2 separate regions of the Homo sapiens genome follow, and region 2 is linked to region 1. The links come from fine-mapping of genetic effects on gene expression. Tissue or cell type: whole blood. Region 1 holds a variant in brackets; the other region holds the start of a gene. All regions are shown on one strand. Distances are between the middles of the regions.

Region 1 (8,108 bases):
ATTCATCTGTTCATAGACATTTGGGTTATTTCCAGTTTGGGGCTATTACAAATAAAGTTGCTGTGAACATAGTGAATACATCTTTGTATGGATATATGCTTTCATTTATTTTGGGTAAGAACCTAGAAGTGAAATGTTTGGATCAGAAGTGTATGACTAACTTTTTTTATTTTATTTTATTTTATTATTATTACACTTTTGAAGAAGTTGCCAAACCTGTTTCCAGAGTGGTCTTGCCATTTTACATTCCCACCAGCAGTGTATGAGAGTTACAGTTGCTTCAGGTTCTGGCCAATACTTGACAAAATAAATCTGTCTAATTCAATCATTCTAATAGATGTGTGATGATACCTCATTGCAGTTTTAATTTGCATTTTCCTAATAACAACTTTTCATGTGCTTATTGATTATATATATATATATATATATAATATTCTTTGGTGAAACATCTTAATCTTCTGTCAATTTTTTTATGGTTTGTTTTCTTATTGTTGAGTTTTAAGAGTTTCTAAATATATTCTGGATAAGATTTTTCATCAGATATATGCTTTATGAATATTTTTTCCAGTTTGGGGTTTGATTTTTTTAATTCTCTTAACAATATATTTCAGAAAACAAAAGATTCTTTGATGAAGCTACATTTATAGTTTTTTTAAGGGTTGTGCTTTTTGTACAATATCTAAGAAATCTTTGCCTAACACAAGGTCACCAAAAAACCTCCTGTTTTCTTGTAGGAGTTTGTAGTTGTAGCTCTTACATTTATATTTGTAATCTATTTATAATTGATTATTTTATATGGTGCAAAGTATAGACTGAAATTATTTTTATTTTTGTATATAGATATCCAATTTGTTGAAAAGACAATCTTTTCTTTACTAAATTGTCTTTCACCTTTGTTGAAAATCAGTTGTTAATATGTGTGTGTGAGGATCTGTTTCTTGGTCTCTTTTTCTGGCTCATTGATCTATTTGTTTATGTTGATTTTTGTAGTGCTATAATCCTTAAAGTCAAGTAGCATAAGTCTTCAACTTTGTTCTTTTTTTACTTTAAATGCTGTTTGACTATTCTAAGTTCTTTATATTTTTATGTGAATTTTAAATCACCTTGTCATTATTTACAAAATCTTTCTGGGATTTTGATTGGGATTGCATTGAACCTAGATAAATTTGAGTAGTTATGCTTTATAAACTTGCCACAAACATTGAATTAGTGAACACTGAACCATTGCTCTTAGGGGAAAGACAAGGCTAGTTTCCTGAGAACATCTGGTTCCACAGAGGTGACCACAATAACCAAAATATTTTTATTAACATATCAACATAAAACCTCGTCTTATGTATGTTTCTGTTTAAAGATATCTTGTTTAATATATGTTTGTGTATATATATCTATTACCAATACATTAACATTGAACAGCCAACAGCACTATAGCTCAGCTTGAAGAAATCCTATCACACATATATTTTTTGTAAAGCACATCATGGCCTTCCTGAACTTAAGAACACTAGACAGCCCTTCAGCATGAAAGCTTGGGGCCATTTTAAATAGTGAATTGCCCCCAGAAGAGCTCAAAAATGTTTAAAACATGGCATGAAATACTGCAAAAAGGACATTTGTTTACAGTGTGAGAGCTGGAGCAAGAAAGCAGAGTGTAGGCTTGTTAAACTCAAGCTGCGAATGTGCACCACAGGAGACCCATCCCTCTCATCTCTCTGTGCCCATCTGCGTGTGACCATGAGAATGCTGCAGCTATTGATCTGAGTGTTACAAATACATTTTAGCAAGCAGGCAAATTGGAAAATATGGAATCTCTGAATTATGAATATCAATTGTATTTCTGCATTGATTTTCTAAAAATTTTGTTTTACATTTTTGTGTCTATAATCACAGGGGATATTGTTCTATAATGTTCTTATAATATCTTTGTTAGAGTTTAGTATTGAGAATTGGCCTTATAGAATGATTTAAGAAGTATATCTTCTTCAATATTCTTGAAGAACTTGTATACAATTCCCATTATTCTTTTCTTAAATATTTGGTAAGGCTGGGTGCTGTGGCTCATGCTTGTAATCCCAGAACTTTGGGAGGCTGAGGCAGGCAGATCACCTGAGGTCAGGAGTCTGAGACTAACCTGGCCAACATGGTGAAACCCCATCCCTACTAAAAATGCAAAAATTAGCCAGGTGTGGTGGTGGCTGGCACCTGTAATCCCAGCTACTCAGGAGGCTGAGGCAGGAAAATCGCTTGAACCAGGGAGGCAGAGGTTAAAGTGAGCTAAGGTAATGCCATTGCACTCCAGCCTGGGTGACAGAGTGAAACTCTGTCTAAAAAAAAAAAAAAAAAGAATATGACATGGCTGCTTCTAACAGCTTAAACTCAGATATGGGAGTAAAGGAATGATTTAAAGTTGAAACATATTTAAAAGGGAAGCAAAGCATAAAAGTTTGGAAAATTCACAGCCTAGCCCTGTGGTAGACAAAGAATCCAAGCAGGCTGCAGAGCAACCACTTACTAGAGAGATTAGCATGACTAAAAGGGAGCCAAGTGTTAATACCCAAGGCAATGGGAAAAAGGCCTCGAAGGCATTTCAGTTATCTTCAAGGCAGCTCCTCCTATCACAGGCCCAGAGGCCTAGGAGTAAAGAATGGATTCAGGGGCCAGGCCCAGGGCCCTGCTGCCCTGTGCAGTCTCAGGACACTGCTTCTCACATCCTGGCTGTCCCAGCTTCAGCCTTAGTTCAAAGGGCTCCAGATAGTACTCAAGCTGCTGCTTTGGAGACTGCAAGCTGCCATAAGCCTTAGTGGCTCCCACATGGTGTTAAGTCTATGGTAGCATGGAAAGCAAGAGTGAAGGGGGCCTGGCAGCTTCCCCTTAGATTTCAGAGGATGTATGAGAAAACCTGGGTGACCAGGCAGAAGCCTGCCACAGGGGTGGAGCCCTCACAAAAAACCTCTACTAGGGCAGCACAGAGGGAAAATGCAGGGTGAGAGCCCCCACAGAGACTCTACCAGAGTACTGCTTAGTGGAGCTTGGGGAAAGGGACTGCCACCCTCCAAACCCAAGAATGGTAGATCTAACAGAAGCTTGCATCCTGAGCCTCGAAAAGCTACATGTACTCAACTCCAACCCATGACAGCAGCCATGGTCATGTACACTGCAAAGTCACAAGGGGCAGAGCTGCCCAAGGCCTTGA[A/G]GGCCCACCTCATGTGCCAGAGTGCCCTGGATGTGGGAAATGGAGTCAAAGGAGATTATTTTGGGGCTTTAAGTAAAGAAAAGGAATCACTTTCTTTTTTCATCCATGCAAAAGAAAGTGATAGAGTGATCCATCCATCACTTTTTTTTTTTTTGACTGTCCTTTGAAGATTTGAAGCCAGGCATTGACTTTTCTCTAGCTATGAAAGTCCCAGATGGCATGTTCTTCCAATTTAAGGTAGTTTCATCTACACTGGAAATCTGTGGCCACCTTTATCAATAATCTTAGCTAGATTTTCTGGATAACTTGCTGCAGCTTCTACATCAGTACTTGCTGCTTCACCTTACATTTGTATCTTACAAAGACAGCTTTTTTCCCCCCCTAAATACCGTGAACCAGTATCTGCCAGCTTCAAATTTTCCTGCAGCTTTCTTGCCTCTCTCAGCCTTCACAGAATTGAAGAGAGTGAGGGTCTTTCTCTGGATTAAATTTTAGCTTAAGGGAATGTTGTGGTCATTTTGATCTTTTTTCCAGATCATTACAACTTTCATCAGCAATAAGGCTATTTTACTTTCTTATCATTCATGTGTTCACTGGAGTAGCACTTTTAATTTCTTCCAAGAACTTTTCCTTTGCATTCACAACTTGACTAGTGATTTGGTTCAATAAGCTTACCTTTCTGCCTATCTTGGCTTTTGACATACCTTCCTCATTCAGCTTAATCATTTCCAGCTTTTGATTTAAAGTGAGAGACCTGTGACCCTTTTTTTTTAACTTGAACACTTAGAAGCCATTAGGGTTATTAATCGGCCTAATTTCAATATTGTCATGTCTCAGGGAATAAAGAGACCCAAGGAGAGGGAAAGAGAGGGGAAAATGTTCAATGGAGGGAGCACTCAGAACACACACATTTACCAGTTAAGTTCACTGTCTTGTATGTGTATGGTTTGTGATGCCCAACAAAAATTACAGTAGTTCCATCAAAGATCACCGATCATAGATCACTATCACAGATATAGTAATAATAAGAAAGTTTGAAATGTTGCGAGAATTACCAAAATGTGACACAGAGACACAAATTGAGCAGTATATGCTTTGGGAAATATGGCGTCAATAGGCTGTTCAGAGTAGAGTTACCACAAACCTTGTAAAAAGAAGTTTGTAAAAAAAATAACGTAATATCTGAGAGGTGCAATAAAGGAAAGCACCATCAAATGAACTCTGACTGCATTTCATTGATTTTTAATATGTAGGTTTTTTGTTATTATTGTTTTCTTGATAATCTGATTTTTTAAAATTATACCATTCTTTTTTAGCCAAGAAAGTTATCTTTAAATATTTGGCTTATTAGGTTTTCCTGAAATGTTTGGCATTATTGGTTTTTATATTTATGTATTTATTGAGACAGAATCTACTTCTGTGGCCCAGGCTGGAGTGCAGTGGCACAATCTCGGTTTACTGCAGCCTCTGCCTCCCAGGTTCCTCCTGCCTCAGCTTCCCAAGTAGCTGGGACTACAGGCATGCACTACCATGCCCTGCTAATTTTTGTATTTTTAGTACAGACAGGGTTTCACCATGTTGACCAGGCTGCTCTCAAACTCCTGACCTCAAGTGATCCACCTGCCTCAGCCTCCCAAAGTGCTGGAATTACAGGCATGAGCCACTGTGCCCAGCATTTTTTATTTATTTTTTTATTGAGGTAAAATTTACAGACAAAATTAAGCATTTTAAGGTAGACAATTTTGTGGCATTTAGTACATTCACAATGTTTTGCAAACACTAACTCTATCTAGTTCCAAAATATTTTCATTACGCCAAATAAAATCCTATATCCATGAGGCACCTACTCCCCATTACTCACTCTCTCCAGCCCTTGACAATCACCATTCTGCTTTCTGTACCTCTGAATTTACCTATTCTGAACATTTCATGTAATTGAGTCATATGACCAACGTGTGAACTTTTGTGTCTGGCTTCTTTCACCTGGCATAATCTTGTATAATATCTGGGCAATGAAATAATCTGTACAACAAAACTTCATGGCACAAGTCTATGTAACAAACCTGCATTTGTACCCCTGAACTTAAAATATAAGTTAAAACAAAGAAAAAAAAGAGACTTACAGAAAGAAGAAGAAAAAAGACTGAATTATGGATGGGTGGATGGATGGATGGATGGATGGATAGGTCAATGAAAAGATGGAAGGCTCATTAAAATTCTGTTTATCACTAAACATACCTGTTCAGAAAAAGTGTAGCGATGTTTACATTATGTGATATGCCACAAGATGAATTCTGTTCATATCCATTATTAATCCATTCATCCACTGATGGATGTTTGGGTTGTTTCTATCTTTTGACTATTGTGAATAGTGCTGCTCTGAATGTTCATATAGAGAGTAATCTGCATACCTGTTTTCAATTCTCTTAGGTATGTCCCTAAGTGGAATTCCTGGGTCATCTGGTAAGCCTATGTTTGACTTACCATGAAATATTTATTCACAGTGACTGAATCATTTTACATTTCCCCCAGTAATACTTGAGAGTTCCAACTTGTAGATATCCTTGCCAACACTTATTTTTCATTTTATTGATTGTAGACATCCTAGTGGGTTTGAAGTGGTATTTAATTTTGGTTTTGATTTGGATTTTCCTAATGACAAATGTTGTTGGTCACCTTTTCATGTGCTTAATGTCCATTTTTAGATATTCTTTGGAGAAATACTAAGTCCTTTGCCCATTTTAAAATGGTCTTTTCAGTTGAATTTCAATTCTTTATATACTCTAGATATTAATCCCTTATCAGAGATGTGATTTGAAAATATTTCTCCTATTCTGTAGATTGTCTTTTCATTTTCTTGATAATATTCTTGGATGTTAAAAATTTTTGTCTTTATATGTCCAGTTTGTCTACTTTTTCTTTTGTTCCATGTGCTTTCAGTATCATATCTAAGAACCCACTGTCAAATCCAAAGTCATGAAGGTTTGTCCCTATATTTTCTTCTGAGAGTTTTGTAGATTTAGCTCTTACCTTTAGATTGATGGTTCATTCTGAGTTCAGTTTTGTTTAGTGATTCAACTTCATTCTTTTGCATGTGAATATCTGGTTGTTCCAGCACCATTTGTTGAAGGGATGATTCTTTCCCTAAATGAATTATCTTGGTACCCTCTTTTAAAAATTATTAATTTCTTGTTTATTTTATTTTATTTTATTTTATTTTATTTTATTTTATTTTATTTTATTTTATTTTATTTTATTTTTGATGAAGGCTCGCTCTGTCGCCCAGGCTGGAGTGCAGTGACCCAATCTCGGCTCACTGCTGGGACTACAGATGCCTGCCACCACACCAGGCTTATTTTTTGTACGTTTTTAGTAGAGACGGGGTTTCACTGTGTTAGCCAGGATGGTCTCGATCTCCTGACCTTGTGATCTGCCCGCCTCGGCCTCCCAAAGTGCTAGGATTACAGGCATGAGCCACCGTGCCCGGCCAATTTCTTGTTTATTTTCATGTTAGATATTGAATATGGTCTGCACAAGTTTCTTTTCTGTGATTAAAAAATTTTTGTTGTCTCTTTGTGGTCAATTTTTATAAATGTTGAAGATGCTTAAAAGTAGGTGTGTATGTCTGTTTGTAAGATACAGAAATTTGAGTACATATAGTACACAACCTTATATCACATATAATAAAAATATTAGTAGTACTGCTTAAATTCTCTATATTTCTTATTTTGCTAAGTAGTCTTAATTAGTGATGGATTGAAAAAGATGAGTTAATATTTACTATTATACTTTTTGGTGTGTATTTATTTTTGTATTTTCAGTAGCTTTTTCTGTGTATTTTTGTTGATATATTATCTGAGCATAAAGGTTCCTGACATTTTTACATTTATTGTGAAATACTTTCTGCATCATTAAACAATGAGTTCATTTAGGATTTTTCATGTCTTTTGCCTAAAATTAAAATTTGCCTGCTTATTAATACAACAATCCCCACTTAAGTTTGTTGGCATTTGTTTGCTTTATCTTTGTCTAACCTTTAATTTATAACTTTGTAATTTTTTAACATATCTTTTACTTTTGGCATGTAATTAGCTTTTGGATCAAACAAAGAAATTATTTTTTAACAGATTTTATATTTCTATTTATATTTGTATTTCTAACAGATATGCTTGATACATGTGCTTCCTTTTCTCTCTCTCTGTGTGTGTGTATATGTGTATGTGTGTGTGTTTAGTGAAGTGGTGTGTATGTGTATGTGTGTGGTTTAGTGAAGTGGTATGTATAGAAAGTGGTGCACTTACTTTTCTCCTGGTAATTTGAAAGTATTATTGTCTGTTTGTTACAGACTGAATGTTTGTGCCCCTCTAAAATTCATATGCTGTAGCCCTAACACCCAAGATGATGATATTTGGGAGGCGAGCCTTCGTGTGGTAATTATTTTTAGATGAGTTCATGAAAGTGGGACCCTCACGATGGAATTAGCATCCTTATAAAAAGAGGAAAAGAGACCAGAGATCTCTCTCCACACCACCACCATAAGAGAACACAGCAAGAAGGTGGCTGTCTGCAAGCCAGGAAGAGAGCCCTCACCAGGGAACCAAATCAGTAGCACCTTAATCTTGGACTTCCAGCCTCCAGAGCTGTCAGAAATAAATTGCTTTTGTTTAAGCTATCCAATGCTTGACATTTTTTTTATGGCAACCAAATTTACTAAGACACTCTTCTAGTGTTATCTTTGTAAATTTGGAGATATATGTCATCTTTATTAATTCATAACTTTTAGTATCAACTATTCTTACATCATGAAAGATTAGATATTTAGTCTTGATAGATCAAATATTCAACAATATGAATTCTAGTTTTGGAATTCTCCATTAAAGGTGCAATTGATTGGATTTGTCATCATGTTTTTTTA
Region 2 (8,108 bases), 140 kb after region 1:
TTTCAATTTTATTCCCATAAGCCTAGATTTGATTTAAAGTCTAAGCGCAAAGGTAGAGAAATTTTTTAGTTGTTTAGTACCTGCCATTTTATTTTTCTCCAACTTTTTATTATGGAAAAAGTTCAAAGATACAAAGAAGGAGAACAGATTGTACAACCCCTTCCCTAAATCCACCACGTAGAACCAATAATCACCAACCTTTTGTCATATCAGCTTATGTGCACGTACTGTGCTGAACAATTTAAAATAAGTTTTAGACATGAAGACATTTTACCCTTTAATACTTCAGCAGCACCTCCTAAAATTAAAGCCATTCTCCTAAACAAACATTATGCCATTATCACACCTAAAAACATTAACAATAATTCTATACTATCAGTCAATATCCCCTCCAATTTGTAATTTCCTCCAAAATGTTTTTGTGTGCGTGTGTGTGTGCTGATTTGTCCAGCTGGGAGTCAATCCGGATTTGTACTTATTGTTATACTTCTTCTTTTCAGCTGTTCTTATACCAGAAGAATCCTTCACCCCTTTTTCTTGACATTGATTTTTTTTGGAAGAGCTCAGGACTGCAGAATGCCCACACTCTGGTAGTCCAGTTTTTCCCATGGTGTCATTTAACTCATGGCTCAAACTCTTCCATTTCCTGTAAACTTGCAGTAAAGTCTAGAGGCTTTGCAATTGATTCAATTGAAGCATCTTTGGCAAGCACACAGCAACAATGATGTTGTGTGTTTCTTTTGCATCACATAATGCCAGGTTGAGCCAGTATTAGTGACACTGAGTTTGATCTTCCTGTAAGGTACAGCCAGATGTCTCCATAAAAAAATGGAAAATGGAAAACCTTTTTCTTTTTTTTTTCCAATTAGCACCCGTTCGCCTGCACACTTTCACCTAAGGGTTTGACACCCACTAGTGCACACTGCCTGATTTAATTATTTCATTAAGGGTTACAGAATGGGGATTTCCTCATTCTCGCATTTCTACGTTTATGAGCTGGCATTCTTCTGTTAAACTGCTTTCACTTGTGAAACAGGATGCAGAGGAGGAGACTTATTCAACAGAATTGTAGGGAGGGCTGTTTCTCTCAAAAGGAGTGGTGAGAGAAGATGGTCTCTACCGGGGCATGGAGGGCTCCTTGTCAGAGTCTAGTGTCTGAGCTTTAAGGCCCAGGAAGAGGGCAGCAGATGGGGGTGGGGCAGTGGGTGAGTGAGAGGCCCGTGTGTGGGGAGACCCACTGAGGACAGGGATCTTTAGGCAAACGGAGCCTCACTGAAAGAGGAATTTCAGTGATGCCATGGGTCAGATCCTGGGTCTCTCTTAGGGAAACCTGCCATAAAGCATGAGAGCCACATTACTCCTCAGGGCTTCTGGGCTCCGATTCCGCAGACTAGTTTTGGAGGCATCACCACGCCTCAAGGTTGCTCTGTTATATCAGGGTAACTGACTTTCTCTAGGAACGGAGACTTGGGTGCCCCTTAAAACAACCCTCAGCCAGTATCCTAGCAGTAAATTTTTCATCACGGGAAGCAACTAATTGAACAGAGGTGTGATGAACCTACTGACCACTTTGGTAATATAGACACAGTGGCCACAGTATGCTGTATTGTTATCCTGGTTGTGACCAATGCCAAAGGAGCATGTTTCCTTCTTTTCTTGACTTGATGCTGTAGGAGTCCAACAAAGGGAAGCACATTCAGGCCCACATGAAACTTGGGACAGAAGTGGCTTCTCAGAGCCGTGCACCAGGCACTTTGAACAAGTTGGAAGGCTACAGTGCCGGAAGACTCCACAGTAGCACAGGCGAAGTGGCTTAGGCGAAAACGCTGGGAAGTACCCCAGCTCCCGGGGGCCAGAGCCTCTAGGGCTGGCAGCCTCAGCAGGCAGAGTCACTTGCCTCCTTCAGCTCAATTGCTGAGGGCTTGCGTTTCTCTGCAGGGAACAGGAGTGCCGCCGACTTCCACTCTTGGTGCCCTTCACCGCTCAAACTGCACCCCAAATAAGCGTATGCACCCTGCTCCAAGAGAAGGATGCGCTGGGCTGATCCTCTGGAGGCAAGAGGGCAAAAGACAGAAAGTAACGAGCGGCCTTTGCACAAACTCAACTCTCTGCAGCGGCCCCTGCGGCCCAATCCTGCCGGCCCAGGAATGCACGGTCGGATAACAGGCCTCTCCTTGCTTTTTCGTCTTCTTCCTCCCGCTTCTCTCCTCTCTCCTTTTCCTCCTCCTCCTTTTTCTTTAATTTTCTCCTTTCTCCCCAAGCTTCTACAGTTGTTTCTGTGTTCGCTCAATCATGGCCTTTGGCATTGATTGAAAATTTGGCAGTTCCTTCTCTCGGAATTCTGTTTGAAGCCTTCATATGGATTTATTATTATTATTATTATTTTTGCCACACAAAAGGGGCAAATCCGCGTGAGGAAGGGGGTCGCATGGGGGTCGGCTGAGATCTGCTGGCTGCCGGTCTAGGAGGGGCGCTGCTCTGTGCCGGAGTGGGCTCTGGTGCACCAGCAGAGGCTGGGGGAGAGTGCTGCCCCCGCCTGGAGCCCAAGTCTCTGCGTGCCTGGGGGTAGAGCGCGGAGAGGGACCAGGCAGGCGCCGGAGGGGACCCGCGCGGAAAAGGAAGAAGCCCAAACAAAAACGCTGTCCGGCGCCAGGCGCCCACCTGCAAGCCCAAGCCGGTGCTCGGCCAGTTACAAAAGAAATGGTCAGGATCTGGACAACGATAATGATAGTATTAATCCTCCTATTAAGAATCGGCCCAAACAAACCCTCGCTGTCAGGGCGACAGGCGCCCGCCCAAGCCCAGACCTCGGACCTGGTTCCAAGCCTGTTCCCGCTGGGTCTCTGGGCGCCCGGTTTCTGCACCTGGAGCTCGCCCGATGAGGACAAGGTCTGGAGGCCGGCCTGGGAACAGGGGCCGAAGGGCGAGCCGGACCCTAGGGGATTGGTAGGGTCGGGGAGAAGGGGTCCAGGCTAGGGGCGGGCGGGGCGCACGGAGACCAGGCGGCTTGAGCGGGAGGTGGGGAGCTGGAGGAGTGCCGGGTTCGCGGGCGGGGGACGGGGAGAGGGGGGCGGGGAGAGGGGCGGGAGTCGGGGGCGGCGAGGGGAGGGGCGGAGCGCGGGTCCCGCCCCGGCGGGCCGCTGGAAAAGTTTAGTCTCTGACTCGCTCGGGCAGAGGCCGAGGAAGCCGGTTCCGGGGACGGGCAACAGGGACTCAGGGACCAGAAGGCGGCTGCAGGACGCGACCGAGCAGGACCCCAGGCCCGGGAACGACGTCGCGAGCGCTGAGACTGCCGGGCCTCCCAGCCCATCTGGCATTCGAGCGCAGGACCGGGCGCCCCGGCACCGCCGCGCGCCACCCGCTAGGATGCCGGTGGCCCCAGCGCCCTCAGCCGACGGAGGTGAGAGGCGGGCCCGGGCGGGGCGCGGAACCAGGGTGGGGGGCTGGGGGCCGAAGGACCCACCTTTCCAACAAAATCCCCACCGATCCCGGGCGCGACGGGGACTTGGGCGCGCCACGGCGGCCGGAGCGCTCCACATCAGCACCCCTCCCCCAGAGCCGCTGCAGGAACAGGGAGGAGGCCTTTTCCACCGCACCCGGAGCGTTTACAACGGGCTGGAGCTGAATACCTGGATGAAAGTGGAGAGGCTGTTCGTGGAGAAGTTCCATCAGTCGTTTTCCTTGGACAATTAACAAGTTAGGCTTCCACAGTGCCAGGGCCTGGGGATGCTGGACGTGGGAGAGGGTTGTGGTCGTTAGCCTGGGAAAATCATTCTTTTAAACAATATTCGCCGGAAAATTAGTTTTTTCCTAACATTTCTCAAACAAGGCAATTAGGGCCGTCAGAATCGGTGCTGGAAGACGAAGTCCCCACAGTGCAATAATGAGGTTCCCACGGAAAATCAGTACGTTGTGTTCGTAACTGAGATAACAGCTAGAGAAGGGGCTTTGGGCTTTTTGAGTCTCCCAATAGTCAGTCTCTCTCTCTCTCTCTCTCTCTCTCTTCCTCTGACTTTCTGGCTTTGGACACTCCCAATGGTATATTTCTTTGTGGTGTTTTTATATTTGGATATAAGAGAGGAACTTCTTGTTGGATTTTTAAGGGAACACACTTCGTTTTGACCCTTCCAATAAGGAAAGGGGAGCTACAGGAACAGAGAGCTCTTTAGAAGGTTACTTTTAAATGGAGGCCCCCCCATTCATGGTACCCACTCCCACTTGGACCTCTGAGACCTCCAGAATTAGGCATCATTCTAAAATCTGGACATTAGAAGTCACAGACTTTGTATATAACCACATATTCATAATTTATCTTTTCAATGTTTTTTATTCATAGATGAAAATCTTGCAGGCATAGTTAAGAAAAATATAATTCCTAGAAAGTACAAGGGAAGGATTATGCTCTGCAGATACATGACTAACAAGGATAGCTGGCCATGCCCAGGGCTGGTGTTGGTTGAGGAGGTGGTGATGGTGCGGGGCATGTGTGTGTGTGTGTGTGTGTGCGCTTGAGGAGTTGTGGAAGTGTTCATATCTGTAAAGTATTATTTCATGGATGCAGACCTTAATGCTAGGTTGAATAACTTTGTTGCCATAGAAGAAGAACCGCACGTCAGGCTTTTTTCATTAGCAAACCAGTAAGCACTCACTTTGGGCCTCTGAAATCACTTCCATCACCTAACACCAGAGATACAAACTGAAGCTAGCCCTTAAGAGCCTCCCCCTAAGATTTAGAGAGAATGATTTCTCAACCAGTTTTCATCTTTGAAAGTGCCATTTCTCCCTTTATCATTGTGATTTTTATTCAAATGCATGAGTCTCTGATTTTCTACCATATACAAAGGGTAGAGACTACAGTTTCCTATAGAAGAAACTTCACATAGTGGCCGAAGGATCTTATTTCTCAAAATTCAGGAACTGGTTTCCTCTTTCTGGAAATTATGACATTAACTTGATTTCATGGTATCTCTTTCATCTTCCTCAATGCCTGTGCTGTATGTATATTTTTATTATATACTGTAGGTATATTTTTATTACCAAAAAAAGGAGAATTTGAGCATGCCACAATCTTGAAAAATCTGAGGTTGCCCTGCTGTAGAACCCTTTAACTGCCAGGACTTTGTACTGTTTCCCAAGTGTTACCAGAGCCAGGCCGCCAGCCTTATGCAGTCTGTTTACCTTAGCTGGAACCAGGGTGCTGTGCTGTGGGTTCTATGAAACTTTCTGTTTCTTCATATTTGGCTTTGTAATTCCTTTCTTATCAGTTTTGGAGGCATTTCCTATTATTCCTCTGCCATATGTTTTCTGCCAAATTAATTGCCTTAAGATTTTCCTTAAGCTTTTGGAAATGTATAATGTTTGAGAAAAAAGAAAAAGAATAGACTGAGTGGAATCGTATCTAGTTTCAGTTAATAACATGTTTCAGTTGATGTTACTGTTATAGCTACTGGGCATAAAGTCTCCTTCCCTTTTTTGAATCCTATTTTTGAGGCATTGAAGCTGTGTCTGTAAGAGACAATAGGCCAGTTGGGTTAAATCAGTGACGAGATTGTCCAGTGCAGATTGGTGCCCAGTGAGTGGATCTTCACTGCTCACAGGCCGGACTGGGGTCAGCTCACACAGCGAGGTGACGGTCCGCTCCTCAAGCAGTGGATGGTGCTCTTCGGCCTTGCAGATGCCGCTCCATTTTCCTGGCTTCAAAATTTTCCAGATATTTCAGTGCCCCCAGAATGACATGCTAACATTCTGCTGGCATGGGAGCATGAGGCAGTTTGTCTCTAAAACATGCCAGAGAATCTCTTGTCACTACCTAGGCAAAGAACCAGTGGCAAGGTGGCAGCCTCCCAAAGAGCTCATCCCTAATGTGACATCCTGGAATCAGATGGCACGGACACCGGCCCAGCCCCTTCCCAGCTCTGTGACTAAGGACAAGTGACACCCCCCCTCCCCCAGCCTCGGTCTCCTCCTGTGTACATTCAGAAGGCAGATGCTGCCATGAGGCCATGTGTGCTATGTCCATGGTGCAAGGTGGCACGCATGCCGAGTCACCAGGTGAGACTGCCGCTTTGGGAAGGGATAGGAAGGATCTCCGGTAGCCTTCGTGGGCAGGATGCCTCTTATTTGAATGTGCCTTTAGCCACCTCACAGAGCCTATTTCCACATCCCTGTGGATTCATCCCTGTGGAAATCTTGAGAATCATTTATCCTATGCTGTCATGAAGCAGCAGCAGAATGGAGAAGGTTTAAAAAGACTCATGGACAGGCAAAGCGGTCAAACACCTCCTGGCTCAGACGCACTTGCCTTCCCACACACAAGTCTGGAAGCTCAGGATGGTGTTCACGGAGGCAGATGCTCGGGGCCGGGGCCTGAGTTTCCTGGGGCACAGCCTCCATATCTGGGGTTCCCTGGACTATGCCCAGATAGCTCATAATGTCCCAGCCTTATTTGTGATGGAGAAGGACTTGGGGAAAAGCCACCGGGAAGCAGTAAGTCTAACCAGGGAAGTGCACTGACTTGCATGCTTTGAAGAAGAGAAGGGAGAAAAGATACAAAACCCTCACCTGGTTTGTCTGTAACAGTTGTTATTTCTCAGGGGAGCTGCATTAATGGGCCAAGCCTGTGCAGCTGGGTGTGTGAAGCATGCATTTTGCAATGGACTGTCTCCAAAAGCAGAGCGAGGTCACCCAAGAAATCTAGAGCAAGGGAAAATACTCATTAGCAAAGGAATTTTGCTGGAGCCTTGTAACGGCCGACTCATTATTTCCTTTCCAAGTTATTTTAAATGAAATTTTAAAAAACATCTTGCTTTCCAAGAAATTTTGCTTGTTGGCATATGTTTGGTGTTTTGATTCAGTTTGGAGGATGAACTAGTTAATTTCCCTGGGAGTACATGCCTATTAAAAATATAGCATCCTGCATCTGACCAAGATGCTATCTTACTATCTTATTGTGCCTATCTTTTATGCGGAGAGAGAAAGGGGGGTGTTGGGAAGGAGACCAGACTGTGGAAACATTTTCTTTATTTTTTCTCTTTTTCTTCCTTTTATAGTTTGTTTATTTTTCAACTTGACATGGGTAGAGAAAGCGAATCGCTAGTATAGAAAGCACATCTGGAATCCATCCGGCCTCCTCTCTCTGGCTCACCCTCCTCCCAGCAATGTTTCTCCTTGGAAGTTGGGGGAAGGTAGGCACCTCTGACCTTGGCAGGGTCTAACTTGGGGTCATCCACTGCATACTCATCTTCCAGAAGGCGTCTTATTCCTCCTCGACAAAAAAAAAATGTGTTGGTATTAAAATGCTTTGAGGTAGGCTGGATGAACCCAGCTTAGTGAGGATGACATGAAAACCCTTAGCTAATGGGGTCTTTATTGAGTAGAACTCAGGTAAGTTCAGATGTAAGCAGTGTCTCTCAGTAAACATGAAAAGACTGAAGATGCAGACAATCAAATACTTAAGTCTCTTGAAGAGCTGGGTGGTGGGCGGGGGTCTTCCCAGGTGGTCAGGGAGATGTGTTAGTGTAGCACTTGGAAGAGAGTGGAACGACCAGGCAAGGATGTGCCGTGGAGGTGGGCAGTGGGAGCAGCCCAGTGTCAGCATCTGTATTGGTTAGAAGACCACCGCTAATGAGGAGGAGCGTCTCTACCCTGCAGCTGTCTGTACTCCTGTGTCTTCCGTAATGTGCCAAGCTCTCTGAATATATGCAAAACTAGTCTGCAAAAAGCCATATGTCTCAGCATCTGGCTTTATTTCTAAGTGTTCAGGTGGAATTTAAGCCGCGATCAAATTTACAATGTCACTGCCAGCTCTGGACACTTACTTTTGGAATAAAGCAAAGAGTGAACACTAATACTGCATCAGTCTTGCCCTCTGTTAGGGGCCGCCCCTTCTCCCCACACCAGTTTTGCAAGATGGGCTGGCTGGGGTCTGAGAAACCCAGTGCCTCCGAGTCATGGTTAAAGCCCATCTCAGACACCAACACACCGCTCACAAATCAACATCGACCTGCGAAAACATGGACATGTGTTCGCCAAGAGAACATCCTCAATCAATCCCAGCAGTGCTACTTGATGATAATCAACACATGGGCCATGGAAGAAATTACCCCATG

Evidence for each region. PIP is the estimated chance that this variant, and not a neighbour inherited with it, causes the effect.
Region 2: it holds the start of S1PR3, and the variant in region 1 is fine-mapped to the expression of S1PR3 in whole blood (TOPMed, PIP 0.97).

Annotation. Positions count from the first base shown.
Region 1 is chr9:88,843,659-88,851,766 of GRCh38, forward strand. No RefSeq gene overlaps it. Among named protein-coding and RNA genes, the nearest start is that of MIR4289, 100 kb to the left of the region's middle. The variant A/G (reference allele first, on the strand shown) is at 3,194.
Region 2 is chr9:88,988,296-88,996,403 of GRCh38, forward strand. It overlaps S1PR3 (sphingosine-1-phosphate receptor 3), which reads left to right and starts at 3,173. Exons shown (of 2, transcript NM_005226.4): 1 at 3,173-3,400. RefSeq lists a silencer at 2,719-3,013.